Regions from separate parts of the Homo sapiens genome. Here region 2 is linked to region 1. Evidence: fine-mapped expression QTL. A gene starts in region 1. The other region holds a variant in brackets. All regions are shown on one strand. Distances are from middle to middle.

Region 1 (14,808 bases):
ATAACAATATGTGAGGCTCAGTGCCCAGTTGGATCTCACCTGTCCACAATGCCATATTTGGAGGCCTCATAATATTCTGACTTTATGAAAAGTACCACGTTTTTTAACCCCATTCTCTCTCCAGATCTTGTTGAATGCTTACCATCTGCCAGGCACTAGGCTAGGTGTCCATGGTGAATTCTCTTCTCTCTGGCAATGCCATCATGCTCTGAAGGTTGTGAAGGCCCTCACAGGCAAGGCATCAGGACTCACCACTGTGATAGCGCAGCTCCCATGAAGGCATCCCCTGCTCCTTCCCCACCAGCCTCCACCCTCCGAATGTGTCAGGAGATCTAACTGGCTTTTCTGGTTACAGATTCACCACGTCAAGAGAGGGGAGGAACAGTTTGTCATGCAGTCATACACCTAATGCTAACATTACTTCAGCTTGTGCAATGGAGGCCTTGCTACCCCGGCCCAAAGCCTCTCCCCCAACTCCCAAAGCAACCACAGGCTGGGCCCAAAGGACCAGTTACTTACCTTCCAGCAAAGTGGATTTGAACATGGAAATTAAAAAACAAAGGAGTGATTCTTGGCATTATAAAAGATAGGCAATAGAATTTCCAGAAAAACCTTGTAATACATTTTACCTTTTATTTGCCAGTAACTCTTCAAGAATGCATACTTAAATATATCTTTTGTACAAAGTTGATGTTTTATTGATGTTACTTGGTGGTGACTCTTTAGATAAAGACCCTAGCCACCTTTAAATTTCTCAGCTCCATCTTGTCTCCTCAAATAGTTTACTGTCCATAAACAAACACTTAAATGTTTGTTGGCTCCTTTGGCTCAGAAGAGCCCTCCAATTAATTCTTTCTACAGCAAAAGAACCTGGTAAGCAAATAACCACTCCATAAACTGCTTGCCTAATGTGTTCCTTTCGGAGAGTCTTCTGGTGAGGCATGTTTTGGGTGTAATTACTCTGTTTTGTTTTTTTGTTTTTTTTTTTTTGAGACAGGGTCTCCCTCTGTCACCAGGGAGTGCAGTAGTGAAACTGTGGCTCACTGCAACCTCAACCTCCCAGGCTCAAGCGATTCTCCTGCCTCAGCCTCCTGAGTAGCTGGAACTACAGGTATGTGCCACCATGTCCGGCTAATTTTTTGGGGGTTTTTTGTTTTTGTAAAGATGGGGGGTTTCACCATGTTGTCCAAGCTGGTCTCAAACTCCTGGGCTCAAGCGATCAGCCCACCTCAGCCTCCCAAAGTGCTGAGAGTATAGGCATTAGATGCCATGCCTCGTCTGCTGTCCAGTTTTTTGATGTGCTTCTGATTTCAATTTGCAACTATCGTGGCACTTCTTTAGAAGTTGTCAGCTTTGGATGGACAGGTTCCTGCTCCTCCTTGGGCAGAAAAAGGCGTTAGCTTTAGGACCTTCATATTCACCTTTTCCAAGAACTTTTAAGGGGGCCTAGAATTTTTGTGAGTAAAATACAAATAAAGCCTGTAGGTTTTGGCCCGTGGATTTTCGACAAGGTGCTATTAACATGCACAAGGTATTTTTAGCAGCCACTGCCTTGTGATTTCCCATCATTCCACAGAACTCCTAGAGCAGCTCCTCCAAACTCAGATGATCTTTTCTCTAAAACCAATGTCCATCTCACTTGGGCTTCATCCTCAAACACAGTCATTCATGGGTTTCCATCTGCTTTGTCATTTATGCTGTTTCCTTCTTTGAATGGGCCCCTTCAAGACCTGTTTCAGGTAAACATGCCCTTTCTTCAATAAACCTCAGTTATTTTCTGCTCTGCAACCTGATTGGGGTTAACTAAGCCACCCTACAAAGGACAAAGTTAACTGTGTGTATCCACCCACCCCCACCCCATCCTCTAGTCCTCTTATTGATTTTTGTGGAAAAATGTATGTGTGTATACATTTAAATATATATAAAAATTTAAATTTTCTACTGATTTGTCACAGTAATTGCTAAAAAAAAGTAAAAAGTCTGAAGACCAGGAAAAGACTCAAGTATTTCACCCTTCTAAGATTATACACACACACACACACACACACACACACACACATATATATACACACACATACCCTGTGCCCTTTCCCTATCTGGAACAGGATGGGAGTATGGTTTGACCTCAAGCTTCATAAATGCTCATTCATGGAATTTCTCCACATCTTGCCCTTTGCCAAGTACAATTTACTGAACATTTATTGAAGGAATGGAGAGGGAACAGGGATGACCCATTGTCTCCTATGCTGCGGGGGTAGAGGGTTGAAACTCCCTCTAGCTGCATTTCTCAGCAAACACACTGGTCATAATGCATCTTGTTGGGACAGGTTGTGTCCCTCTTTCTAGAATTTCCTCCCCTGTCCCCTTGTTCTTTCCTTAGCTAACTTTGAATAGCCCTTGAAAATAGTTTAAATGGCTGCTCCTTGAGGAAACTGCCTGAGCCCCAGGCTGACCTCACTGTCCTCCCCTTACATGGGGGTGGCCCTGGGCCCACCTGTGGCCTGGCAGGGGTCCCACCCATCACTGATGTACTGGTCTCTCTCATTCACTTGATGACCTATTCATTAAGGGAAGGGATAGTGTCTTATTGAGTTGTGTATTTTAATAGTGAGTGGCATATTAGATAAATAAATGTTGAGCCAATGGATGCAGCTAAGAACTTTGAGAAATCCATCTTTCTCATTAAGGTCAAGACTCCTAAGAATTTTTTTTTAAAGAGACAGGGTCTTGCTCTGTTTCCCAGGCTGGAGTGCAATGCCACAATCATGGCTCACTGCAGCCTCAACCTCCCGGGCTAGATCCTCCCACCTCAGCCTCCCAAGTGAGTAGCTGGGACTACAGGTATGCACCACCACATCCAGCTAATTTTTGTATTTTCTGTAGAGACAGGGTTTCACCATGTTGCCTAGACTGGTCTTGAACTCCTGGGTTCAAGCAATCCGCCCACCTCGCCTTCCCAAAGTGCTGGCATTACAGGCATGAGCCACTGCCCCAACACAGAAAAATTTTTTTTAAAATCAGTTACCTAATAAAATTATTCAAAGAGTTAAGATAGTGCTTGGCACAAAATAGGCCAACAATAAATTAGTTATTATTACATCTTCTAAGAATGCCTACTTCTAAATAAGTTAATTCTTAACATCCCTCCATAGTCTCCCAATCTGAAACTTCCCTGGTTCAGAAAGCCCTCTTCTGCCATTAGCAGCATCCCATTTGTTTCACGTTTTATTCACCACTCTTCTAAATATTTCCTCCAGCTACTCTGCTCTTAAGCGTCACCCTCTTGACCCAAATTTTGTGTCCTCTGAGGCCTCTGGAGGGCCTTGCAGGGAGGTGGGAGTCTGAGGCAGCTGGAGAGAGAAGAGAAAGTCTTCTTGCTTTGCCTGAATCAGAAGGCATCAACTGATGGTTCTCAGATATGTTTGTTTGGCCCACAAAGGCGACACACTGTGTTTTAAAATAAAGGATACTAGCTGCCAATATTAATTAATAAAAATTGGGATTTCTGTCAACACTAGGCCCAAATTCTTACAAGGCAATAATCAGGTGGGGCAGAAACTGAGATGGCCCCTTTCGAGCATTCGTGCTCCTGTTCGCCACAAACACCCCTGCGCCCGCCCCAACTCCCTATTCTGCCCCAGCTGAGTTCAAACGTTGGGGCTGATTTCATGACATTCACAGTTTCTCCAAGTGTTATTTTCCTCATAGGAAGAGGAAAGTGAAATATTTCTTGTCCCTATGTCTCAAACTAAAGAAAAAAATGAGAGTGAGACCCAGGAGGTCATATGTTTTGAGAAAAATAAAGTGAATGTACTCTTTGCGTAAGTGAAGAATTTGATACAAAGTTAATATGTAAGCCCAAATGTGTCTGGTTCAGAAGAATACAATTCAAGAGGCCATTCTGAAAACAGTCTGGCCCAAATCACTTATTTTCTTACCTTATATGCCTAACCCTGTTGTCATTTGGGCTTAAAACCTCTGGTCAAATTGACAGAGCCTCTTGGAACTCAAACCCACCCGAGATCCAAAAGTTCATTACTGAATGGATTTAGGTTCCATCTCTTCCTATTTTCAAATTGAAGATGGACTAGGCTGACCGGTGGCTTTGGGGACTGGAGTGGGAAGAACACTCTTACTTCTCAGCCAAGCTCCTGTTTTCTTTCGCTATAAGACAGGTATTAATAGCAAGATGAAGGGAGGCAGGACGTTCTAAGATGGATAAACCACAGAATCCAATGTGCCTGGAGAGTGTGAACTACTGTTTGGATTAGACAGCTCTATTTTTAATCAATCATGAGTAATTATTTTTATTTTCTTAACTTTTCTTTTTGAAACAATTTCAGTCTTTAAAAAGTTGCAAAAATAGGCCGGCCATGGTGACTCACACCTGTAATCCTAGCACTTCGGGAGGCCAAGGAGGGCGGATTGCCTGAGCTCAGGAGTTCAAGACCAGCCTGGGCAACACGGTGAAACCCCATCTCTACTGAAAATACAAAAAATTAGCCGGGCGTGGTGGTGGGCGCCTGTAGTCCCAGCTACTCGGGAGGCTGAGGCAGGAGAGTTACTTGAACCCAGGAGGTGGAGGTTGCAGCCTGGGCAACAGAACGAGACTCCATCTCCAAAAAAAAAAAAAAGTTGGGAAAATAGTAAAAAGATTTTATATAAGCTTTTACTGATACTCAAAATGTTAACACTTATTTAAGTATAAGTATCAAAATCACGAAATTAACACTAATACAATGTCATTGTATCAATGTAACACTGATACAATGTTTATCTGATCTACACAATGTATTCTAATTTCACCAATTGTCCCACTATTGTTCTTTTTCCAGCCCAGGCTCTAATCCAGGATGTCACATTGCATTTCATTGTCAGGTCTCCTTAGTCTCTTTTAGTATGGAACAGTTCCTTAGTGTTTGTCTTTCATGAACTTGACACTTAATAAACTGTCCCTCAATTTCAGTCTGTCTGCTCCCTCCTCATGATTAAATTCAGGTTATGCATTTGGTAAGAATATCACAGAAGTGATGTTGTATCCATCTCACTACATCATATTAGGAGGTACATAATGTCTGGTGATATCCCAAAGGTTTCTCCACTGTACAGTTATGAATTTCAAAGGGAGAATAGTATCCTCTGAAGACTTTGAAATGATATATCTTTTTGTTATTTTGTTACTTCTATTTTTTAAGAGATGATGTAAATATCCTTTTTCTCATCACACTTTCACCCACTAATTTTAACATTCATTGATGATTCTTGAATGAAACCACCATAATTTAAAATTAGAATAACAGTGAAGAGAAACATAAACCTATGAAAATTACCTAAAAAATGGGAATGTCCCTTGATCCTCTCTTTCTCAGAGAGCAGGTGGAAGTCATAAGCTGTCCATTTATTTCTTTCAATTATTAATGAGTCCTGGGCTTCCATTGAATGGCCTGGGCCCTACAGACCTTTGAGAGTGCTGTGTCTTATGACTTTGGTTGGTTGAGTAATATGGCCTTGTGGCATCCATATTTTAGACTCTGCATAAACCCTTAACCCTACACTCCATGCTAACAGATCTTAGATTTTTCTGTACTAATTTGCACAGGACCTGCTCATCCTGGCACATGTGGTATCACTTGGGCTGTACCTGTTTCCATTTTCTTCTCCATTTTTACAAATCAAATACTTCCCACAAGTCTCAGCTTGAAGCTGTCTTCTGTGTTAAGTCATTATGGGAGCCCAGGGCTTAGCTTTTCTTTTGACATTTTTCTGCACTTAAGAATGAAGCTTGGAGCCAGCATGGTGGCTCATGCCTGTAATCCCAGCACTTTGGGAGGCTGAGGTGGGAAGATCACTTGAGTTTAGGAATTTGAGACCAGCCTGGGCAACTAAGTGGGACCTCACCTCTACAAAGGATAAAAAACAAATTAGCTGGATGTAGTTGTGCCTGCCTGTAGTCCCAGCTACTCAGGTGGCTGAGTGGGGAGGATTGCTTAAGCCTAGGAGGTCAAGGCTGCAGTGAGCTGTGACTATGCCACTGCACTCCAGCCTGGGTGACAGAACAAGACCCTGTCTCCAAAAAAAAAAAAAAAAGTTTGGGCCTCAGCATTTGTTCAATACCTCCTATAGCAGGGGGCAGACAAGGAAGGGTAATTCATATATCTTGAGAAGTTGTAAAAGAAGTGCATAAAGTCAATGAATTCTAAAACAAAAAAGAAAATAACAACAGCTCATGGAAATCCAAAGAAACCACAGAAAAGGTGGCATTTAAAATGGGCCATGAAGACTGCAGATTGTGAGCTGTGTGTGAAGGTGGGAGGCTTTGTAGGCTAAGAGAAAAGCTGGCTATGGGCATAAAGTGGTCACACTTACAGTGATATATACAAAGTGTATCTGGGGCTGAAACAGTATGCATTCTAAAGTGGTTGAGAAAAGGGATCAGAAGAGATAGGCTGAATATCTTATATAGGCCCTTATGCTGTGCACAGTGGTACCTTAGTCTGGGGTTTCAGGACAATAATTCTTGCAGGAAGACGGAAGGTGGACTGGATAAGGGTGTTATTGGAAGAATGGGCACCAATCAGTAGAGTTTCAGGTGGAAGATAATCACCCAAATGTAGGCAGCAGTTGGAAAGGGGCAGCTAGTTTTCAAGCAACCAGTGTATAATTTTTTCTCTGTGATTCTGAAATCCCAAAAGCTGAAACCAAAATTTTTTTTCCTGAGCTTGCAGAAAACATATTTGGTAGAAAAACATAACCTAAACAGATGTGAAGCTATTTATTGTCTTTGTCTTTATCTCACCTAGATTAAAAGACAGCCACAATTCTTTACTGCTCCTCCCATCCACAGGTGGTATCTGTTTCCCCTCTGCGTGACTCTGGCTGGCCTTGTCATTCATTGGCTTAGACCAATAGAATGTGGTGGAAATGAGTCCGTGTAACCTTCAGGGCTGGGCCTTAAGAGATCTGCTTCTGCATTTGCCCCTCTTAGAAAGTCTCTTCCAGTAGCCAGCTGCCAGGTAGAAGTCCAACCACCATGAGCTTATCATACTGTTAGAAAGCCCAAGTTGAAAGGGCACTGAAATGCTCAAATGGGAATGAAGACTTTTTGGACTTTCTGGCCCTGCCAAGTCACCAACTGAAAGCAGCTGAGTAAATGACTCCAATCACACCATGCAAAGCAGAAGAACCTGCCAGCCAAGCCCTTCCCAAATTCCTGACACAACAGATTTCTGAGCAAATAAAATGGTGATTTTAAGCCACTAATATTTTGTGAACATTTATTACATTGCAGTAGATAATCCAAGCATACACTTATGTCATTCATGATTTCCCTTGCAGAAAATTAGTATATTAGAGTGTCACCCCAGACCTTACCAAAGGTATTATGTAATATATGGTACATGCACATTTTACCTTTCTAAATTGAAAAACAAAATCTGAATTTAGAAATTCATCTGACCCCAGGAATTTTAAGAGAGGATTGTCCTTTGTTAATATTATGGAAATAAAGTTGTCTAGACTCCGTCTTTTACGTTCACTAAATGTCATGCATAATGCTTGAGTCTCCTCCAGCCATTTCATGTATGTATCTCTTATTTCCCCAAACTCATTAACAGTTTCTCTAAAGCAGCAGCTAACTTCAGCATGCATCAGTGTCTTTTGGAGGGCTTGTTCAAACACAGCTTCCTGGCTCCACCCTCAGAGTTTCTGATTCAGAGGGTCTGGGGGTGGGGCTTGAGACCTTGCATTTTTGATAAGTTCCCAGGGAACTTACCTGCTGTTGGTCCAAGGACCACTTTGAGAACTACTGCTCCAGGGAGAAGTGCTATATTTTAAATTTTAAGAATTTACCCACCAGCCCAAGGTGCTTACCAAATGCACATGGATGGAATCTCTCCAAATCTACATCTTTGCCATGCTTTTGAAGCCTTAACTTTTACTCCTGGAGGTCTTCCTGGCTAGGCCCTAGACTTAAAAGACACTAATTCCTTGTTTTATTTTATTAGATTGTCGTTTTTGCTTTCTTCTCAGCACACTTGATAAGACACTGTGAAGAAAATGTCCCTTCTGATCTCGTTTTTAACCTGTCTTGGAACAGATCAGCAGAAATGCCTTCACTGTGAATCAAAGATACCCTCGATTTATAGCCAAAGATTATTTCCTTTTCTTTTGGTGGCTTCCAGATAAAATGTTTCTTGCTACCCTTTCACAAAATAGAAGGAGGGACCAAGCGGAAGATAATCTTTTTGTTCAGAGGTCCATCTGTCAAAGCCTGCATTTTAGAGATGGCATTACTGAGGTCCAAAAACTAGAGCCACTCGCTCTGGGTCATACAGCCGATAAACGCACGCAGCCGAGCTCAGTTCTTCCCTGACCCTGTTACAAACTGCCTCACTAAATGAGGACCCCCATCCCCTTCCCATGCCAGGAAAGCACAGCTCATTTGTCCTAAAGTTAACATTACACAAATCACACCCTTCAAGCCTTCTTGAAACATTTTTTTTCCCCGAGGGTGACGGGACGGTTACGCTGATTCATCCTGGCCAGGGACCCCAAACATCTCCCCTCCTCCGGCCCAGGCGCCGTCACCCAGGCTCCACCGGTCCGCGGGACAGAGCCGCGGAGAGCGCCTGGAAGCGTCGCGCCCTCAAAGCCAAGCGATTAAGTTGGTTCCTCAAATTGTTCCCGACAGGAGGGGCAGGAAATAACACCGGGCTCTGGCGGCGGCCGCAGCAGGAGGGGGAGAAGAGCGGGCCGTCTCCCGGGCAGTGCTGGCGGCCTCTCATCGATCTCGGGTCTAAGGTCCGGCCGGGTCATCATTCCTGCCATTTCCACAGCATTCGAGGTACCACATCACCCCCTGCCTCGGTCGTCGCTCAGTCATTCCCTCCGCGCCGAGTCCTGGAGCGGCGGAGTCCCTGGAGGCCTGGGTTTCCTTAAGGGGCCCCAATGCCCGCAGCCCCCGACCCGCCCAGGTGGAAGGAAACAGGCTGCGGGCCTGGGCCAGGCGGGGCCTGACAGAAGTAAAGGCCGGGAGGGGGAGCGGAAGACGGCCAGAAGGACCCCTGCGCCCTCTCCTCCGCGCCGCCCGCCAGGCTGCCAACCCAGCCACCCTGGGTGCGACGCGGCGCCTTCTCCGCCGCTGGGAGTCGGGCAACAGGTGAAGAGGGCGGGCGTCCGCGGCGCCTCCGCGGGGCGGTCCCTCTCCTGCCCGCCTCCCGCCCGCCCCTCTCCCCGCCCCCTCCCCTCCTCCGGGCCTCCACCGCCTTCCCCGGCTGCCCGGCAGCCTCCCCTCGCTCGCTCTCCTCTTCCTCTAGGGCCCCAGCGCAGCTCGGGAGCCCGCGCACCGAGGCGCTAGGGGCACCGCGCACTAGAGGGACACCCGCCGCGCCTGGACAGCCCCCGGCGGGCGCCCCCCTCGCACCTCCTGCCCCGCGCGGGCCGCGCTCCCCTCCCCCGCGCCTGTGTCCCCAGGGCGCAGGGCCGCGCGTCCAGCCCCAGACCCGCCGGGGTCCCTGGGGACGCGCCAGCCCGGCAGTGGCTCGACGATGGAGGAGCCGCAGCGCGCCCGCTCGCACACAGTCACCACCACCGCCAGCTCCTTCGCAGAGAACTTCTCCACCAGCAGCAGCAGCTTCGCCTACGACCGGGAGTTCCTCCGCACCCTGCCCGGCTTCCTCATCGTGGCCGAGATCGTGAGTGCCGACGGGCCGGGGGTGGCGGGGGGCTCAGCTGGACCCCGGCGCGTGCTTCCGCCGTGCTTCTCGGGATGGAGCCTGCTCAGATCTTCCCGCGGGCTTTAGGGAACCGTTTTTGCTCAGCCTCGCCTTCTTCCCAAAGTGAAAGACTCTAAACAAGGTCCAGGAAACTCGGGCTGTCCTGGGAAGAAAGGGTTGTGATCCTCAGGATGTCTTGCTGTGGGAGAAATTCAGCTTGTTGGGTCCTCTCGGTGGCGGCGGCAGATCCTGGGAGCAGGAAGCTTGGCTTAGTGGCTATTGAGTTTGTGTTGAGTGTCAGAGACACCTGGTGCCTTTCTCACCTGATCTCCACGTGGATGGCCTCCTCCCTGAAAATAAAGCTTCCTAAGATCAGGGGAAGAGGAAAGGGCTTCTTTCTTTTCCTAATTATCTCCCTGGTAGTAACATTGAGGTGAGTCAGGAAAATTTTACTGAATAAAATCTGAGTGCCATAACCTATTTTAGGACCAAAGAGGTCTTTTGCATGGTGCTGTGCACATCCTGGTTTAGGCTCAGAACATTCCTGGGAAGGAGGCAGGGCATGGGCGTTCTTCTCTTCATTGGAGGGCATAGAGGCTGAAAACTCACGTGATCTTCCCAGAAGTCCCAGCCAGTCCTTCATAGCTGAGAAAGGACTGGAGTCCTGTCAGCAGTTAGAGGTGGTCACTGTTTGAGTCTTCTTCGTGTACCAGGATCTTGTCAAGCCCTTTAGATGTCCTCATACCCTCGTGTAATCCAACGACCACCCTCCCCTGTGAAGGCCTAGAGAGGGGACGTAAATCACACCGGTGGATGGTGAAGCATGGATTCAAACCCAGGCCTGCCTTTCTGCAGGGCCGTGCTCATAACTGCAAGCAGTTGAGACAGCTTCCAGCTGCCCCAGCAGTGCCCCTCTGTCATCTCTCACAGACTTTTGTTAAATATTTGGGAATTGAAAATGAGCCTATGTGGGAGTTAGAGAATGGGCACACCATCATGGTGCAGAAGTGACTGAAGACCTGGGCGGTTCCTTTGAGAAACCTGAAGTAAATCTTGTGTACCTCAAGTAGCTTGCTTGCTCCCCCAGTCTCAGATACCACCCGGACCTGCTCTATGAAGCCCCTGGTGGTCATAATGCACATAAGGTATGAGAAGTGTTGGCTTAGCTCCTCTCCCAGCTGGTTCCCTCAGCGAGTATTGAGGACTTCAGGAGACTCAAAAGCTGAAGGTATTGGAATCGCCTTGCAGGGCCTAGCTTTTAGGAGTTCAACAAATATTTGCTGTGCAAATGAAGGAGTTGGCAGGCTCCTCTGCTTCAGCAGCGCAAACAAAAGCTAAAATGACAGAGATGGGCCTTCTACCTTGGGGTGGATTTGGGCCAGGCATGAAGTATAACGCCTTTGGGTTTTTTTCTGATTTATTATCGATATGCTCTGTGTACTGCGCTTTTTCAGGAAATACAAAAGTGAAAGAAATGTAAGTGGCCCACAATCCCATTACTAGAAATAATCACTGTTGACATGTTAGCATGTATCCTTTTAGATTTCATTAAGCGTTTTGAAAAAGATGGGAAAACATGTAAGCAAAATCACCCTTATTACTACTATAGTTTTTATTTTTGACAGAGCTAATTATGCACCTTTTTTGTTTGTTTTGTTTTGTTTTGAGACAGGGTTTTGCTCTGTCTCCCAGGCTGAGGTGCGGTGGCACCATCATGGTTCACTGCCGCCTTGACCTCTTGGGCTCAAGCGATCTTCCCATCTCAGCCTCCCAAGTAGCTGAGACCACAGGCATGCACCAACACACTTGGATAATTTTTAATTTTTTTCTAGGGACGGGGTCTCTCTGTGTTGCCCAGGCTGCTCTGAAACTCCTAGGCTCAAGCAATCCTCCTGCCTTGGCCTCCTAAGGTGCTGGGATTGTAGGCATGAACCACTGTGCCCCACCTTATGCACATATTTTAAAGATTCGGTCCTACAGGCAGAAATATAAGTTTCTCCCAGTGTCTTCATCTCTTTGAGCTCTAAACAACGTGTTTATAATGCTGTTTATTGGTGTTCCCTCACCCACCCAGTCATAGACATTATCCATTGCCTTTCTACTCTGAAAGATGAGGCTTTAGCTGGGATGCCCTCTTCCCTGCCTCCAATTATACATACCCTCTTCCTGTCTCCCAATATAGGTCCAAACACTTCTGATGGTTCAACTTAGGAATTTTCAGCTTTACAGATGTTGTAAAAGCAGTATGCATTCAGTAGAAATCATACTTCGAATTTTGAATTTTGGTCTTTTCCCAGGCTAATGATATTCGGTAGATATTTTTTCATGATGCTGGTCAGCTCTCAGCCACCCATGCCATCACCAGCGCAAACCACCCATCCTCTCCAGCATGCTGTGCTGCTGGGTGATTCTGCCAGCTGTAGGCTAACCTAAGTGTTCTGAGCACGTTTAAGATAGGCTAGGCTTAGCTATGATGTTTGGTAGGCTAGGGGTATTAAATGCATTTTTGACTTCGGATACTTTCCACTTAGGATGGGTTTATCAGGATGTAACCTCATTGTTAAGTCAAGGGGCATCTGTATAGTCTTCAGGTGATTTGGGTTAGATCAGCAGCCAGTGTTGACCTATGACACTGTAAATACCACTTACAACTGACCCAGTGCGTAGACTATGAATGCTTTTCCTTTCCTGCCCAATTTCTTGTTTGCCCTGGTGTTAGTAATTCTCTTTTCTCATTTCATAATTTCTCCAGATATTTAGTCACTAATTTAACCCTAGTTGTTTAAGTCTCCTATCAAGAAGCTGAGAGACATCAGGTATTCTGTCAGAATCGTCTTCATGACTGGCCTCTCTGGGAGCCTCTGGCCTGGTGGCCTGCACACAGCTGGCCGACTGGGCTCTCCTGCACCATCACTCTGAAGATTCTCTTCCTTTCTTTCCTGGGTTGGATCCTCTGCTTCCCATGTCCAGTGTCCTCTGTCTTGCTTTGCTCCCACTGGGGGGACACACAGCCTCTTGTAGTTTTCTAAGAAAGCATGCATGTGGAAATGGAAATTTGCACCTTTCAGAATAGCTTGATTCTATACACAATTCCTAGTTCAACTAGGTAGAGAGTGTTAGACTGAAAATGTTTTTCTTCAGAATTTAAAATGTATTCTTTTATTGTCCTTTAGCTATTCTGATTTAATTTTGTTTTGTTTTGTTTGAGACAGTGTCTTACTCTGTCATCAGGCTGGAGTGTAGTGGTATGATCACAGTGCAACCTACCCCTCCTGGGCTCAAGTGATCCTCCCACCTCAGCCTCCCAAGCCAGCTGTGACCACAGGCATGGGCCACCATGCCTGGTGGATGATTTTTTTGTATTTTTTGTAGAGACAGGGTTTCGCCATGTTGCTCAGGCTGGTCTCGAACTCCTGAACTCAAGTGATCTGCCCACCTCGGCCTCCCAAAGTTCTGGGATTATAGGCATGGGCCACTGCACCTGGCTGTAAAAATTTTTATTTCAATTATTTATCTCCCTCTACCCCCTGACTTCTGGAAATGTGTTGAACCTTCTTTTTCCCAGAGATCTAAAATATCACAATGATGTGCCTTCATATGAGTGTGTTTTCTCCCAGTGTACTGGGCACCTGGTGTGTTCTCTCAAATAAGGAAAATTCACGTAAGTTTCAGGAGACTCCTCCCCATTTTTACAAAGGTATTTTAGTAAACAAAATACAATTTTTTTTTTTTTTTGAGACAGAGTCTGGTTCAGTTGCCCAGGCTGGAGTGCAGTGGGTCTCATAATGTCACTCAGGCTGGAATTGCAGTAGTGCAATCCCAGCTCACTGCAACCTCTGCCTCCTGGGTTCAGGCAATTCTGGTGCCTTAGCCTCCCAAGTAGCTGGGATTATAGGCGTGCACCACCAAGCCTACCTAATTTTTGTATTTTTCATAGAGACAGGGTTTCGCCATGTTGGCTGGGCTGGTCTCGAATTCCTGACCTCAAGTGATCCACCTGTCTCAGCCTCCCAAAGTGCTGGGATTACAGGTGTGAGCCACCTCACCTAACCAAAATAAAATGATAGCTCTCTTAAAAGTTTATAAAAATAAACATTTATACATTGTTGGTCAGGCGTGGTGGTTCACACCTGCAGTCCCAGCACTTTGGGAGGCTGAGGCCAGCAGATTGCCTGAGCCCAGGAGTTTGAGACCAGCCCAGCCAACATGGCGAAAACCCATCTCTACTGAAAATACAAAAATTAGCCCAGCATGGTGCTGGGCATCTGTAGTCTCAGCTACTCGGGAGGCTGAGGCAGAAGGATCATTTGACCCCAGGAGGTCGAGGTTGCAGTGAGCTGGGATTGCGCCACTGCATTCCAACCTGGGTAACATTGTGAGACCCTGTCTCAAAAAAAAAAAAAAAAAAAATCACATTCTTTTAAAAGTATAGGTTGGGAGTGTATCCTCGGACACATTTTTGGATAATTGTCTTCTCTTCTCAGCTGCAGTCCACTCAGACTGACTTTTACATTGTGAATTCAGGAAGGCAGTACAGCTCACTGTGGTTGAATGCATTTGACCTGTGTTCAGTTTCTGGTTCTGCTCTTCACCATGTACAGTGTGAGCCATTCTTTCAATTCGAAAGTATCTCATAGAGTTGTCAGGACCCAAACAACACAGCTGTGCATGAAATGCTTAGCAAAATACCCTGGATTACTCTTCAGTTATCTCCTTCTCTCATTGATGCCTCTCTTCAGCTTCCAGTTTTGCTGTTTTGCTTCCAGCCTTTTCCTTTGGTATATTTTAACTCCAGCAAATGCCAGACAGAGAATTAATGGTTTCTCTGCCAAGATATTATAGCAGCAGGGATGAGTATTCAAGCATCTTCCAGTTCATGGTAGACCAACTTTGAATTCACTCCTGATCAACATAGCTGCCCCCTGCGCCGCCCTGACAAGTACGTGAGGAGAGGGAGCTGTGGAAGGTCAGGTCCAGGGAGCTAGAAGGTTTGATAGTTTCTGGCTGCAGAACCACCTGCACTTGCCCTGCACACCAACCAAGATCTTACCTAAGGAGTTTTTTTGAGACAGAGTCTCACTGTGTCACCCAGGCT
Region 2 (16,798 bases), 46 kb after region 1:
TAATTTCTGAAATGTAAATATCCTGCTTCATCCTTCCTCCTTCCTGTCTGTCTGCTTCATATTTTATGGAACCAATTGAGAGTAGGTTGCAGACATCACACTCCTAAATACCCTAGCTATTCCAGCATGCATCTCTAAAGGACAAAAGTATTCTCCTGCATAACCACAGTGTAACTATCATTCTCAAATTTTACCAAATTGTCCTAATAATGTTCCTTATATTCTTTTTCCCTGTCCAAGATAGAGCACAAGATCACATATTACATATAGTCATCATGTCTTCTTTAGTGTCCTTTAGTCTAGAATACTCAGTCTTTGTCTTTCATGACCTTGACAATTTTGAAGAATCCAAGTGAGCTGTTTGGGGAATGCTCTGCAAATTATGTGTGTGTGGTGTTTCCTCATGAGTAGATTCAGGTTATGTGTTGTTGGCAGAAATCCCACTGAAGTGATGTTTGTCCTTCTTAGTACCATACATCAAGGGGCTTGGGATGTCAGTGTATATTGTGATTAGTGAATAAAACTATAATCACTTTTCTTTTTTAAAAGACAGAGTCTCACTCAGTCGCCCTGGCTTGAATGCAGTGGTGCAATCATGGCTCACTGCAGCCTCAACCTCCCAAGGCTCAAGCAGTCCTCCCACCTCAGCCTCCCAAGTAGCTGGGACTACAGGTGTGCACCACCACACCTGGCTAACTTGGGTGTTTGGTTTTTTTTTTTGTGGAGACAGGGTTTTGCCATGTTACTCAGGCTGGTCTCGAACTCCTGAGCTCAAGCAGTCTACCCATCTTGGCCTCCCAAAGTGCTGCTTTTCTGCAAGCTAAATGTGATCTTTTTCTGAGCAGAATGACACAGAATTTGGAGACAAACAGACTTGGCTTTGAGTCTTGGCCCTGCTGCTATTAGCTCTGTGATCTTAAGTGAAATATTTAACATGTTAAAGCATCTGTAAAATATGTCTAATAATACCCACTTCTTAAGATTATTGAAAGAATCAAATGCAAATTCATGTAAATTGTTTAGCACTGGCGCATTGTAAGAACTCATAACCCTTGTTCTGGGGGAGATGATAGTATCCAAATGGCATGGGGGCCGCTCTGTCCCTCAAAGGTATTGGTGAAATCGCTCAGAATCTGTGTGAGGAGCACAAAGGCCCCCCATGTACTTCCTTTTTTTTTTTTTTTTTTTTTTGGGGACAGAGTCTTGCTGTGTCACCCAGGCTGGAGTGTGATAGTGTGACCACAGCTCACTGCAACCTCCACCTCCAGGGCTCAAGCAATTCTCACGCCTCAGCCTCCAGAGTAACTGGGATTACAGGTGTGCATCACCATGCCTGGCTAATTTTTGTATTTTTAGGAGAGATGGGGTTTCGCTATGTTGGCCAGGCTGGTCTTAAACTCCTGGCCTCAAGTGATCTGCCTGACTCAGCCTCCCAAAGTCTGGGATCACAGGTGTGAGTTACCACTCGTATGTACTTCAGTTAATTCCCAAAGAGCCCGTATTCTCTTGCCCTTTTCTGCCATCTCACCCACCTCCTTTATCCTTTGCTGTCATCCATCTCTGGTGTCCGTAAGAAGCTCACTGGTCCCAGTGGTGGGTTGGTTTTAGATGTTGACCAATGACGGGTACAGAGGCTTTTAGAGAATGCAGACCGACCTCCTATTCCATTCTTCTCCCCTTCTGTTTTGTCTCCCTTCCCTCCTGGGTTACTCGTCCTCCTCCTCTCCAAATCCTTCTCCTTCTGTTGTTCAGGGAAACTCTCTCCAGCTCCTACCTCCAAACTGTGTATCTTAATTCAGTGAGGGGGTGCAGAGAAAAGACTTCTCACCAAACCAGAAGCAGCTCCCTAGAGGGCAGTGGGCCTTATAAACAGGAACTTCTTTTCCTGTAACATGATTGTTTTTATTCTCATTGTGCAACAGCAATGCCGTGGATATTTCCTTGATGTTTATTTTGACTTGAGAGGATAGCAAGTGGTTTGAACTTGTATGAGAAATACCTTCATGCTGGCACTGCTTGGCTGGCAATTAGAGTAATTGCCTGTGGCTAGCCATGGACCTTTGCATGGGTGCTTTATCTGAATCCAGAGGAGAAAGCTGGGCTCAGCTGAAATTGCGCCACACAAGATCTTTGTTCTTTGGAGGGGAGTATTAGCTGGGGCCCCAGGCAATGCTGATGCCACTTTGGTTGTTTTCTTGTAACCCGTGTCGTCAATGGTTCCCACAAAATGAGCTTTGGATGTTGCACCTTCTGTGTCTTCCTTTATGCCACCTCCCACTCCTCCTTCATGAAGCTGTTTGTCTGGATGAACTTGTTTGGTGAGGCTGCCAGACCTTCCATATCAAACTGAGGGATGCCTTTTTCACCTGCTGTTTTCTTGCTTCATGATTCTAATATCTAGCCCTGTCTCCTGAGAAATTTTTTTTTTTTGAGATGGGGTCTCACTCTGTCACCCAGGCTAGAGTGCAGCGGCACAATCATAGTGCCCTGCATCCTTGAACTTGGCTCAAGGAATCCTCTTGCCTCGACCTCCCAATAAGCTGGGACTACAGGCACATCCCACCATCCCCGGCTAAGTTACTATTTTTTTTGTAGAGATTGGGGTCTCACCATGTTGCCCAGGCCAGTCTTGAGCTCCTGGGCTCAAGTAATCCTCCCACCTCAGCCTTCCACGTAGCTGGAGCTACAGGTATGCTCCAACACTCCCAGCCCTGAGAAATTATTTAGTCTTGAAAAGGAGAGAAAGGGAGAAGAGAAAGGAACAGAGTTTAATCCTGATAAAGGCTACTGGTGTCCAGGGAGGCCCTACATGGTGAGGCTGTGGGCAAGTAAGGCCCCACGGTGGTTGCTGCTGCTGACTTAGAGGTTTTGTCTGTCCATTTTCCAAGGATTCTCCCTTTGTCTTTCTTTCTTTTTTTATTTTCCTTTTTTTTTTCTTTTTTTGTTGAGACAGAGTCTCACTATGTTACCCAGGCTAGACTCAAACTCCTGGGCTCAGGTGATCCTCCTGCCTCAACCTCCCAAGTAGCTGGTATTACAGGTGTGTGCCACCACATCTGGCTTATTCTCCAGGGAGTGGGACTGCATTTGAGGGTGATGAGAGTTTGCGGGAACTGTGTTGTGTTGTCCAAACTCAAAGGACTCTATTACCCGAAGTTATGTTACTTGTTCCAATGAAGTCTTTATTTTGGAGAGGCCTGTGGACCAGAAATGATACTGGGCCCCAGACCAGTTGTGTTGGCCTATACAGTGTTGAAAATCAGAATTAGTTGCCAGTAAGTAAATATCAGATATTATAAGAAAATCTAGATTTCCATGATCTCTTGGAAAATTGGACAAATGCACAATACTGAGCCCATAGTTCCTCATGGCAGTAATCCTTTGGAGCCAAGAAGTGGCTGCCCTCTGCATGTAAGAGTGTTGGTCAAGATGCATGTTTGACTGTTGTGACAAAGACCAAAACAAGTGGCTTAAACAAGGTGGAAACTTGTTTTTCTGTCATGACAGTCAAAGCACTAATTGCCCAGGGCAGACATGATAGCTCCGTGGTGTCAGAGACGCTGCCCACTTCTGTCGGTTTTCCCTGTTCTCTGCAGTGGGTTCCATCTTCTGATCCAAGATACTGCTTCATTTCCCACCATCCTGTCTGCTCCAGCCTTCAGTAGGATGGAGAAGTAGAGGATCCCTTTCTTCAAGATCCAACCTGGAAGTTACATGTATCATTTCCTCTGGCATCCTGTTGGTCAGAATGTACAGCATGGCCACATCTGACTGCAGATGAAGCTGGGGAAATGTGGTCCTCATCTACGTGGCCATGTGAATAGTTAAAACCCACTTCTTACTAAAGGCAGAATGTGAGAGCGGATGGTATGGACAAACTATATTCTGTGCTGTGAGGGGCCTTGCAGTCACCTATTTGCTGCTATTCTCAGCTCTCTCCAGTCTTCCCGTAATTGAGGTCAAGAGTCATTGTCATTTATTTTCTTGTAACTGATGTGTTTCACTCATTTATGTTACCTGCTTGGTCCCTGTAGGCATTTGAGTTTGCATTCTCAGCTGTGCCCTGATCATCTCTTTCAACACACCTCCATGCTTTTATATTTGTTGCCGCCTCTGTTTAGAATTACCTGGCCTCCCTTTCAGGCCTGGCAAACTCCTTCTCAGGATAACGCAGCCCCATGCTTCCCTTCCCAAATTGAGTTATCTCTGTTAACCATCCTAATATATAAGCTGCCAATTTTACATAATACCTTTTAGTTTACTTACCTTTATATACTTGATGCCCAGAACAGCACTGGGTACATAACAGACTAAGGGTCAGTCCTGTTTACTGAGTGTTCATTCAGTGAAAGACACTTCCTAGAACTTAAAAGCATTTTTAATATCTAACAGTGAAATAGTGTATTAGTCACAGCCTGTACAGCTGTAGATGATGGAAACGTGGCTAAATTGGCTTCCATGACAACAAAAAGGAGGAGCACTTACTGGCTCGTGTATCTGACAAGCTGAGCTATGTGTCAAGCCTCAGGTATGGCTGGAACCAGGAGTTCAATAGATAGCAGGACTCAGTCTCTCTTCTCAGTGTCTTGGCTGTGCTTTCTTCTGAATAAGCTTCATTCTTAGAAAGAGTTTCTCTGCATGATGATGACAAAGATGCCACCCACGGTTCTGTATTTTTCTTATAATTAGTGATTTTTTTTTTTAATTTTTTTTTTATTATACTTTAAGTTTTAGGGTACATGTGCACATTGTGCAGGTTAGTTACATATGTATACATGTGCCATGCTGGTGCGCTGCACCCACCAACGTGTCATCTATCATTAGGTATATCTCCCACTGCTATCCCTCCCCCCTCCCCCGACCCCACCACCGTCCCCAGAGTGTGATATTCCCCTTCCTGTGTCCTTGTGATCTCATTGTTCAATTCCCACCTATGAGTGAGAATATGCGGTGTTTGGTTTTTTGTTCTTGCGATAGTTTACTGAGAATGATGGTTTCCAATTTCATCCATGTCCCTACAAAGGACATGAACTCATCATTTTTTCTGGCTGCATAGTATTCCATGGTGTATATGTGCCACATTTTCTTAATCCAGTCTATCATTGTTGGACATTTGGGTTGGTTCCAAGTCTTTGCTATTGTGAATAATGCCGCAATAAACATACGTGTGCATGTGTCTTTATAGCAGCATGATTTATAGTCATTTGGGTATATACCCAGTAATGGGATGGCTGGGTCAAATGGTATTTCTAGTTCTAGATCCCTGAGGAATCGCCACACTGACTTCCACAATGGTTGAACTAGTTTACAGTCCCACCAACAGTGTAAAAGTGTTCCTATTTCTCCACATCCTCTCCAGCACCTGTTGCTTCCTGACTTTTTAATGATTGCCATTCTAACTGGTGTGAGATGATATCTCATAGTGGTTTTGATTTGCATTTCTCTGATGGCCAGTGATGATGAGCATTTTTTCATGTGTTTTTTGGCTGCATAAATGTCTTCTTTTGAGAAGTGTCTGTTATTAATAATGGGAGACTTTAACACCCCACTGTCAATATAATTAGTGATTTTTTTAAGAAACCATAAATCTATTGCTTCATAGTGGTAACCAAGCACTTCGTAGTGGCCACCAATCAGGAGGAAGTCCCTGATTGACCTAGCTCAGGTCACATGGCCATTCTCAGTCCAGTCAATGTGGCCAGGCATAAGTGAGGGGGGAGAATAGGGTCTGGAAGCAGGGAACCTAAGGCTGATTCACGCTGATTTCCTAGAATGGAATTAAAAGGAAAACCCCAACTTTCCATGCCCAAGTAACAAAAGGATCATAAGCTACTTCCTTTGCACCCCCACCCACTTTTTCTTCGTGGCAGATGGAAAATGGAAAGTACTCTGATTGGTCCCCTTCTGCAACCAATCAGACTGGTCGTGGGCCTAGTCTTTATTTGCATAGGGGTATAACTTTGTAACTTCACTTCAGCCTTTGATTGGTTGCCTTCTGCAATCAATCAGACTGGTCATGGGCCACTTCTTTATTTACATAGGCTGTAACCAAGTAACCAGTGAGAAACCTCTAGAAGGTATTTAAACCCCAGAAAATTCCATAACCAGCATGCTTGAGCCCACTCCCATACTGTGGAGTGTGCTTTCGTTTCAAAAATCTGTAGTTTCATTGCTTCATTTGTGTGTTTTGTCCAATTCTTTGCTCAAAGTGCCAAGAACCTGGATGACTCACAGTCAAGACCCGTCACTGGTAACATAAGTAGTCTGGCCATACCTGGGTCATCTGTCTACTTCTGGTACCTGGGGTGGAGTCGACCCTACTCAAATTACATTGAAGGAAAGGTAGGTCTCCAACACGAGAGAAAATAGGCAAAAAAAAAAAAAAAAAAAAAAAAGTGACAATTATATTTGGAACTACCTTTGTCTCATTTTATAAATAAAGCAGCTGAGGGTGAGAGAGATTATCGTGACCTAAGGTCACAACCAGGAGGCGGCAGAAGTGGGATTCACACCAGATCTTCCTGACTCTAAATGGTAGACTGTTAATTCAGTGCACCCAACTATTTCTGAAGGGAGTTATCCTGGAACTCCCCAAGCCCCATCTCTGCATGGGGACAATCCTGAGGTTTGATGCTCCTGTGTATGACTATTAGTATGTAGAGATACCTTGTAGGCCCACCATGGCAGGATTTTGTGTAGGAGCACATGTTTAGCTGTAAGCTCTGTTTTCCCTGGCACCTCTCTAGTGGCTACACTGTACCTGAAAATATTTCTCTTACCCATCAAAAGAACTCTTTACATTAATAAAAGTTGGAAGAGTCAGGCAGCTGGATTCGTCTCTTCTCTTGGAACGTTTTGATTAATTTAGCACATGCATTCTCATCAAGGGGTGGTGTTGCTTGCAAGGGAGCAAAAACTGGTTCTTGGGGGTAGGGAGGGAAATCTTACCTTTTTTAAATGAATAAAGTACATATATACATGTAGTATCTAAATAGACAGTTTATCTGAGATGTTAAAATTTCCTGGAGATAATATGCTGTGATGAATGCCATCTTGAAAACTGTAACATATCTTCCCTCCAGAAGATATGTCCCTCATTCTTCAACAGTTGTCACCTTTTTTCTCTGCTCCACCTTGCAGCAAAACTTCTTGAATGAGTTGTCTTTATTTCCTAATTCCTCTCATCCCACCTGCTCCTGACTGAACCCTCTCCAATCAGCCTTGTCACTAGTCTACCCAAACAGCTCTTACCAAGGGCACCAGTGACGTCTGTTTTGCCAAGCCAAATGGTCAACTTTCAGTGCTTATCATACTGAGCCTGAAGGCCACATTGACACAGTTGACCCCTCCCCTCAATCCTTTAAATATCTTATTTTCTTGGCTTCAAAGGTCACTGTCCTAATTTTTTTTTCTTATCTCACTGGATGTGTACCTCATCTTCTTTCCTGGTGCCTCCTTATCTCCCCAACTGTAAATACAAGAGTGCCAGGGCTCAGGCCTTAGAACATTCCTCTTTTCCGTCTACACTCATTCCCTCAGAATCATGGCTTTCAACTCTCTCTATAGGTCCTCATTTCTAGCCCCAGCCTAGACTTCTCCCCTGGATCCCAGATTTGTATCTGCCCACTCACCATCTCTTCTGATATGTCTCATAGGCAACTCAGGCTAAGTATCAGTTTTGGGTTAATACAGAGAACAGAGAAACATATTAAAAGAACCCATGAGGACACAGTCAGCAAAATCTAGATTGTGTGTACGGGACAAATGACCCAGTTTTTTCAAAAAATAAATTTTAAAGAAAAAGGAATAGAGGAGATGCCTATAGATTAAAAGAGATTTATGAGATAAAAGTCAGTTGCAATATATGTACCATATTTGGATATTGATCCAAGCAACCATAAAATAATTATGAGATGATCAGGGTTATTTGAATATTGACTGGATATTGGATATTATCATTAATTATTTTTAGCTATGAGAATGGTGATTTGGCGATATTAGAAAAAAATTAAAAAAATATATACCCAGAATGTTATCAATTCTTACCACCTGCAGTATTATCACCCTCAGCCAAACTAACATCCTCTCTTGTATTATTTTTATATTGCCTCTTAGCTGATTTCCCTGCCTATAACCGACCCCCTACACCGGTCTGCTCTCAGCACAACAGCCAGAGATATCCTGGTAAGATGTGTCATGATATTCCACTTCCCATTGCATTTGGAGTGAGAGAGCCAGTCTGTTCAGTTTCAGTCTGCAAGACCCCATGGGTTCCTCCCTTACCTCTCTGACCTTATATCCTGCGCTCCACTCCTGGGTGAGCTGCTCTGGCCCCCTTGCTGCTTTTGTGACACAGCAAGCATGCTCCAGCTCTAGGTGTTTGTATTTTCTCTTCTCCCTGCCTAGAACCCACTTTCTCCAGGTCTTATTTCAGCACCTCCTTTCCCTGAACATTCTGTGTAATAAGTTAACCCTTATCTCCTTAGCCTGCCTAGTATTTTTCCATAGCATTTGTTACCATCTGATGTATGTACTGTTTTTTTGGTCTGATGCTTCCACTAGAACATGAGTTATGTGAGAGTAGAAACTGTATTTTTCATTGCTGTATCCCTAGTACTTAAATTGCACATAACACGCACTAAATAAATGTTGAAAGAAAAATAGTTTTTCATACAGGGGGAGGAAATGTTTATAAATGCTTAGGGGGAGCATGATAATGAAAAAAGTTGAGAATCCCTGCTTTAGCCTTGGGAAGCATGTGGTCATCTTGTCCCTGCTATTACTGTTGTTACTGTATTTACATTTCTCTGTCTTTTCCACCTTGGGATAGTCCGTTTTATCATGTTATAACGTGTCATACAGCAAAACTTTGTGAATTGGCTCCAATTGGGGGAAGAGTCATTTGAGTTTCTTCTCTTCAGACTGAGCGCTTGCTATCTGGCTTCTGTGCTGCAGTCGGGGAGCTCACATCGCAGGCGCATGTAATGTGACCAGCACGTCCCCCGGGAGTTAGCTTCCTTCCCCATGCATGAGCTGGAGCCTGCGGAACAGGATGGCGACAGTTTACTGAGGTGCCATTGATCCCGGGACACGTCTAGGCATTTCAGGCCGGGCAGTTGACCGTCATATGGGTCTCTCCTACATAGCAGGATGTTTACTGTGTCTGCCTTTCAGGATTTATCTTGACACAAAAAACAACTTGTTTTTTACATGCACACATACATCCCCTCCCCTCTGTCCCACCCTCCACACTTGGAGAACTAAGATGTCAGGAAGGCCCCGAGGAGGAATAAGCAAGAAATGAG[G/A]CAATCCAGGCAGGCACTCAGATGTGCTCGTAGTTTATGGCCAGAAAACAGTGCTCTAGGTGTGTTCAGATGACTGTGGTATCTTTTCTGAAACTCCATTTGTAAATATTTATAGCCCACTTCTTTCCAAAAAGGATTTGAAATAGCTTTATGAGTATACATAAACCCACACACAAATATACACTTAGGGCTGGGCACAGTGCCTCACGCCTGTAATTCCAGCACTTTGGGGGAGCCGAGGTGGGCGGATCACCTGAGGTCAGGAGTTCGAGACCAGCCTGGCCAACATGGTGAAACCCTGTCTCTACTAAAAGTACAAAAAATCAGCTGGGTGTGGTGGCACATGCCTGTAGTCCCAGCTACTTGGGAGGCTGAGGCATGAGAATCATTTGAGCCCGGGAGGCAGAGGTTTCAGTGAGCAGAGATTGTGCCACTGCACTCCAGCCTGGGCAACAGAGCGAGACTCCGTCTCAAAAATAAACAACAATAACAAAAAAATATATACACTTAGATTTAACAAAACAAGAGTGGAAAACAAGAAACCTGGCCTGAAAGAACAGGAGGAAGCAGTGAGGGAGTCTTGAGAGTTAAGTCGGGATCTGCGAGGGGAATCACATGCAGCTGGATGCCCTCTGCCAGCCCAGTGCCCAGGGAAGCGGAGTGGGGCTGCCTCACCTTGTCCTCACCTTCTACCAGCCTTTGCATTATATCTCATAATTTTTCCCCTTTAGTCATCACATTGGGTTATCTATTGAAAAATCCGAGTAGCCAACTATATAGTATCATTTAAAAGTGGACATAGGACTTTGAGTAGACATTCTAGGTGATTGGTGCCTGTCTCCAGCACCGACCTGTGATCACAGCTCACAGAGGGCATGAACTGTGTCTGTTCATCTTTGTACTCCAGTACCTGGAAGCCAGGAGGAACTCAATAAATATTTTACTGTATAAATGAATGGCTTTACAGTTCTTCTTACAAGAAAGGAAGAAGCCTGTCAGTTGTTTGAGGGAAAGGTTTTTGTTTTTGTTTTTTCCTGGTTCTATTTTGAGAGTTCTCTCATGTGGGCGATTATATTAGGAATTTTGAGTGGTGTCCTCGGTCTTGTTCTCAAGAAAATTGGGAGAAATGCAGACGCAGGATTCATGTGGCTTTCCTTGTAAGGGGGAAAACTGAAGTCCTGACTTTGATGAGCAGTTTAATGCAGAGTCTGAGAGGCCCCAGCGAAGGTGATCAAGGTACACACCTTTTCCTCATATGACCTGGTTCAAGAGCAAATGGAAATTCCTCAGGGAGGGTAGAGAACAGTCCCTAAATGTTACTGCTTTCAGGGCCACTTTGGGTACATGCTAGAGGTGGTTCAATTTGGGATTATGTAATATAGTAGTAAAAAGCAGGGACCTTGCATAGAATTATACACAAAAATATACCACAAAAAATAATAGTGGTGCAGTGGCTGGGTGCAGTGGCTCACGCCCGTAATCTCAGCACTTTGGGAGGCCGAGGCGGATGGATCACTTGAGGCCAGGAGTTTGAGACCAGCCTGGGCAACATGGTGAAACCCCATCTCTACTAAAAATACAAAAATCAACTGGGCGTGTTGGCACACACGTGTAATTTAAGCTACTCAGAAGGCTGACACATGAAAATTGCTTGAACCTGGAAGGCAGGTTGTGGTGAGCCAAGATGACGCCACTACACTCCAGCCTGGGTGACAGAGCGAGATTCTATCTCAAAAAAAAAAAAAATTAAATTAATAATAATACTAGTAGTACACGTAAAAATGGGTGAAATCTATGTGAAGTGTATTGCGCTCATTTTGGTTTCCTGGTTGTGATAAAGTACTGTAGTTACATAAGGTGCCACTAATTAGATAAATTGGGTGATGGATGTATAACACCTCTCTGCACTGTTTATGAGTCTATAATTAAAAAGCAGGGCCTTGGCAACAGAGTTGTGTTGAATCCCCCATTACCCCAGCTGAGAGGTGACTTTTTTCTCCTGGCATTTAACGTAATTCTTAACTACCTATTTGCTCTGTGCCTTTCTCCCCCAGGAGAAAGCAGAAGCTGAGTCTGTTTTGTTCACTGCTAAATTCTCTGTCTCCTAGCACAGTGTGTGGCACCTGTGTTTTGAAGTCAGATGTTTGGATGAAAGAATAGTTATGGACACAGGTGACTTAAATTCTCTCAGGCGGTCTGCAGTTAGGTCAATACCTCCCTGTCAGGACGATGGGAGAATTAAATGTGTATAATGTAGCTAAAGCTCAGGGCCTTCTGCAAGCAAACACTCAACTTCCGGAGGCGGCAGACTTTTTCCGTCAAGGGTCAGATAGTAGTGGCTTGGGCTTTGCAGAGCATGCAGTCTCTGTTGTAGCGGCCCACCTCTGCCACTGTAGCACAAACGCAGCCAGAGACAATCGGTACATGAATGAGTGTGGTGCATTTAAAAATGCAACTTAAAATCTTTTAAATTGCAAATTAAAAATAATTTTTTTATGAACCTGAAATTTGAATTCTTTCCAACCATTTCAATATATAAAAATCTCTCTTAGCTTATAGGTGGTGGGCTAGATGTGGCCTCAGGTCCACAGTTTGTGCACTGTGATGGGCACTGTCACTTTTGGCAAGCTCCTTCTCCACACTGCTGGCCGCTGGGGTAAACGAAGAAGCTGTGGAAACTATATAATTTGGTGGCAAAGTTAATGTTCCCCACAAAACCAGATCTGTGCAATGAGTTTCTCTCTGGGCTGGGAGGAAGGCTGCTCCTGTGGCCCAGATAAACCCAGCCTGCATTTTGCATGGGAGGCTTTGTAGGATTGGCACCATTTCCCATAGGAAGGCGTAACACACATGTTCTCAGCTCTAGGCAGCTTGCTGTAGAGCAGGGCTGTCCAATCTTTTGGCTCCCCTGGGCCACACTGAAAGAAGAAGAATTGTCTTGGGCCACATATAAAATACACTAACACTAACGGTAGCTGATGAGCTGAAAAAAAAGGGCGCAAAAAAACTCATGTTTTAAGAAAGCTTACAAATTTGTGTTGGGCTGCATTCGAAGCCATCTTGGGCTGTATGCAGCCCGAGGGCCGCAGGTTGGACAAGCTTGCTGTAGCGTGTTGTCCAGGTGCACTTGTCTGCCGGAAAGGGCAGATAGATGTGGGCTCCAGCCCTGCCTGATAGCCTCTCGGCTCTGAGCGTGGGCAGATCTCTCAAGGCCCTCTGAAACTTGGTTTCTTCTGCTTTAAAGGTGGAATGGTGAGGTGCAGTGGCAGCCTATTTGTGGCTGCTTTGCTTAATTTGGGGTTAGCTAATAGCTGTTCCTTTTTTTGTCTAAAGTGGTTATACTGACCCAATCCATTACAAAGTTGCTTTGAGGACTAAAATGAAACAATTTAAGGTGTCTGGCACTTACCCATCATTTTTATTGGGCACCTTCTTAATAATGTTTGAATCTACATAAGGTAAGATCATCTACATTCTTTCAGACACACAGCCATTTACTCCTCTGAATTTGAAGTTTTTCTTCAATTTTTTGTCTTCATAAGAATTAAAATGTTACAGAGTCATAAATTTTGTTTTCCAAGTTTTACCTAAAACCCTCAGATATTTTGCTCCTAAACAGGTTAAGGACCAATGTGATACTGCCCTCACTCTTAAAATCTTGAAATCCTTCAGCTGTTAATACCATTAAACTATTACTAACTGATTTATTTTTGTAGTGTTCAAATAAATTTTAATATAGGTTGGGTGAAATCTAGAAAAGTTGTATATTTTGTCTTTATGTATAATAGGAATTACAAGGAAGTGCCAATTCAGAGTAAAGTTAAATGAAAACATGAGAGTTAGGGAAATAAGGCTTTATTAGAATACACAAATGCCTTCTGTGGTCGATTAGATTGTGAGAATCCAAATAAATATTTTAGAAAATTATTATTTGAATAAAAGTGCACATTATTTTATGTGTCCGCCATTATTTAATGTATTCCCTCAACCATATGGAGATGGCAGAAGAGATATTGATTCAGGCTTTGGTTGTGAGTGAAGGAGATAGGAAAATTATCTGGAGGCTGCTGGTAGGATTATAAGGAAAACCACTAAAGAATCTGGAAATATGTTCATATGCCAGCTGCCCCTCACAAGACAGTATTCCGTGCTTGAAGTTTGGCAAGAGAGAGATGATCCGTTTATGGCTTTAAAAAAAAAGTATTTACAAAATCTTAATTCACACGATACATTATATTTATTTGACATGTTTTATTACGGATCATAAAACTAAAGTTCTGGAAGATTAAGTCACTTTCCAGATATCAAATAGGTAGACCTGGAATCTGAACACAGTTGGCCTGACTTGCAATCCATGGTCTTTTGACAACATCTTTGTTTCTCTGTGTTCAGGACTCTGCTAACACAGGATTTTAGATGATGGGTCCTTGCTCTCAAGGAGCTTACAACTTAATTGAGGAGCTGACTTTCATATATGAGAGTAAGTAGAAGAAAATACAGCTATCATTTCTTTATTTTTTAGAGACAGGGACTTACTCTGTCACTCAGGGTAGAGTTCAGTGACATGATCGCCCACCGTAACCTTGAACTGCTGAACTCAAGTGATCCTCCCACCTCAGCCTCCCAAGTAGCTGGCACTACAGGCACCCACCACACCCAGCTAATTTTTTAAAAACTTTTTTGTAGAGATGGGGGTCTCACTGTGTTGAGTAGGCTATACAGCTATCATTTTTTTTTTGAAATGGAGTCTTGCTCTATCACCCAGGCTGCAGTGCAGTGGCACAATCTCAGCTCACTGCAACCTCCACCTTCCTGGTTCAAACAACTCCCCTGCCTCAGCCTCCTGAGTAGCTAGGACTACAGGCGCCCACCACCACGCCCAGCTAATTTTTTGTATTTTTAGTAGAGACGGCATTTCACCATGTTAGCCAGGATGTTCTCGATCTCCTGACCTCGTGATATGCCCGCCTTGGCCTCCCAAAGTGCTGGGATTACAGGCGTGAGCCACTATATCTGGCCGCAGCTGTCATTTCTAAAGCACCTTTTGGTTTCCAGTGAGCTATCTCAGTCGAATTTCCTATAACTATGAATTAGTTGAGGTACATGCCATTAGCTCATTTTCATGGTGAGGAAACCATGAAAAGGCTCAAAAAGTTAGTGACTTGCCTAAGATTATACCAGTAAGTGACAAAGCCACCATGTGGTACTTTGTGTCTTGCAGTTTCTTTTTTACCGGAAGTCACAAAATCAGCTGCATACAGGGGCCAGGAAGGCAGAATATATGAGCAAAGCACGTTATAAGGCAACAGGGAGCAGTGGGTTTGTGATGAACCAGAGATTGAAACTTCTGTCTGAAGAGGTCACTGCTACTTGGCTACAGCTGATTGTGCCCATAAAGAAGTGAAAGCCCCAACGATAACGGATCTAATTTTTCAGAGATGCCCTAAATCTGAATTTTAATTTAAAATCTCCTGATTAACCTTCTCTTTAAAAATTCTCAGAACACTGAATTAACCAACACTATGTGTGCTAAACAAAACTGTCTTTTGGGCCTCAAGTTTGAGAATGAACTCTGCTGTATACTCTATGGCCTCTAAGACAAACTCTGATGACTTTTCCCCAAATGAGTAGGAAATCAGGAAGCTTCAGAGAGCCATGGTGTCAAAGAAGGCTTCCTGGAGGAGGTGGGATCAGAAAGGAGCCTTGAAGGATGGATAGTAGAAAAGAAGGGAGAGATCCTTCCAGGCTAGGAGAGGGGAGAGAATATACAGTAAGTATTGAGCACAATACCTGAAATATTACCTGAGGTAATAATATTAGCAGTGATGCCAGTATGCTAGTATATTAACAAGAAAGCCAGTCTAACTGAAATAGATGCATAGAAAATGTGGGACCAGCCACCCAAACCTCCAGCAAATACCATACTTAGTGATGAAACATTAGAAGCTTTCTTTTATAAAATCAGGAACATAAGGATCTTATTACCATTTATATTCATCGTAGGCCCTGGAGGCCCTAACCAGTGTAGTAAGACAAGAATAAGAAATACAAGGATGGGGGAAAAAGGAGGCCAGTCATGATGGTGCACACCTGTAATCCCAGCACTTTAGGAGGCCGAGGCCGGTAGATTGCTCGAGCTTAGAAGTTCAAGGTCAGCCTGGGCAACATGGTGAAACCCCATCTCTACAAAATATACAAAAATTAGCCAGGTGTAGTGGTGCACACCTGTAGCCCCAGCTACTTGGGAGGATCACATGAGCCTGGTCAAGGCTGTAGTGAGCTGAGATTGTGCCATTGTACTGCAGCCTGGATGACAGAGTGAGACCCTGTCTCAAAAAAAAGAAAAGAAAAGAAAAACAAACAGTCATTATTCATAATCATATTATCTACGACAAAAATCCAAGAGAATTTACAAAATAGTGTTCAGCATGATTGCTTAATATAAGTCATAATACAAAAGTCAATTCCACTTCTGTACACAAACAATAAACAGTTTGCAAATATTTCTAAAACTTTATATATTACCTTTATGGAGCAAACCTAGAAACTTCATTGAAAGATAAAGATCTAAATAAATGGGAAGCTGTACCATTTTCATGAATGGGAAGCATCAGTATTGTAAGATGTCAGTTCCTAAATAAACACATTCAATGTAATTATAATTCAAATCACAATTTTGTATGAGTATGGATAATGTACATGTATATTAAGCTGCTTCTAAAATGTGTTATATGTGAAACAGGTAGTCCAAGGCCAGCTTTGGAGGACTTTGGTGCTGGAACATGGAGTTTAGACCTGATCCAACCTGCTGCTGTTTCTCAGGCTAGGGCCGGTGTTTGTATTTTCAAGTATTAAAAACAAATTTTTCTGTTATTTTAACAATACAAGCAAATTCTGGAATTTAAAATTTGCCCAAGGGCTTCTGGGTGATTTCAGGCTAGACACTTGTGTTTGTGTTTGCAGTCACATTTATACTGAGTTACAATCATTTGTCATGGGCTAATGACAGAGGAACAAGGCAGACTGATTATATAAGCATCTGGTTAGACCAAGTGCAGGCCAACTAATCTCACAGCCCAGCAAAGGCTTGTAGCAGCTAGTGTGAAATGGTCGAAGAATTACGAGGCTGGCTCATTTTTGTATTTTTTCAAGACACGGGGTTTTGCCATGTTGCCCAGGCTGGTCTTGAACTCTGAATCCCAAGTGATCCACCCACCTCAGCCTCCCACAGTGCTGGGATTACAGGCGTGAACCGCTGTGCCTGGCCAATTTTATTTTCAAGATTTTACCACTAGCAATATGTAGGATAAATGGGAGATGAGAGGCAAAGGTGAGTTTGAGTAGAGAAGAAATTTTTTTTTTTTTTAATACAGAGTCTCGTTCTCTCTCTCAGTCTGGAGTGCAGTGGCACAATCTTGGCTCACTGCAAGCTCTGCCCCCCGGGTTCACGCCATTCTCCTGCCTCAGCCTCCTGAGTAGCTGGGACTACAGGT

What was found. PIP is the estimated chance that this variant, and not a neighbour inherited with it, causes the effect.
Region 2: its variant is fine-mapped to the expression of CMTM8 in whole blood (GTEx, PIP above 0.99).

Annotation. Positions count from the first base shown.
Region 1 is chr3:32,229,428-32,244,235 of GRCh38, forward strand. CMTM8 (CKLF like MARVEL transmembrane domain containing 8) reads left to right here and starts at 9,253. Exons shown (of 4, transcript NM_178868.5): 1 at 9,253-9,692. The coding sequence starts at 9,546. It also overlaps the pseudogene SMIM11P2. RefSeq lists a silencer at 9,057-9,266.
Region 2 is chr3:32,274,476-32,291,273 of GRCh38, forward strand. All of the region lies in intron 1 of CMTM8 (CKLF like MARVEL transmembrane domain containing 8), which reads left to right. Among named protein-coding and RNA genes, the nearest start is that of CMTM8, 44 kb to the left of the region's middle. RefSeq lists an enhancer at 14,574-14,623. The variant G/A (reference allele first, on the strand shown) is at 9,306.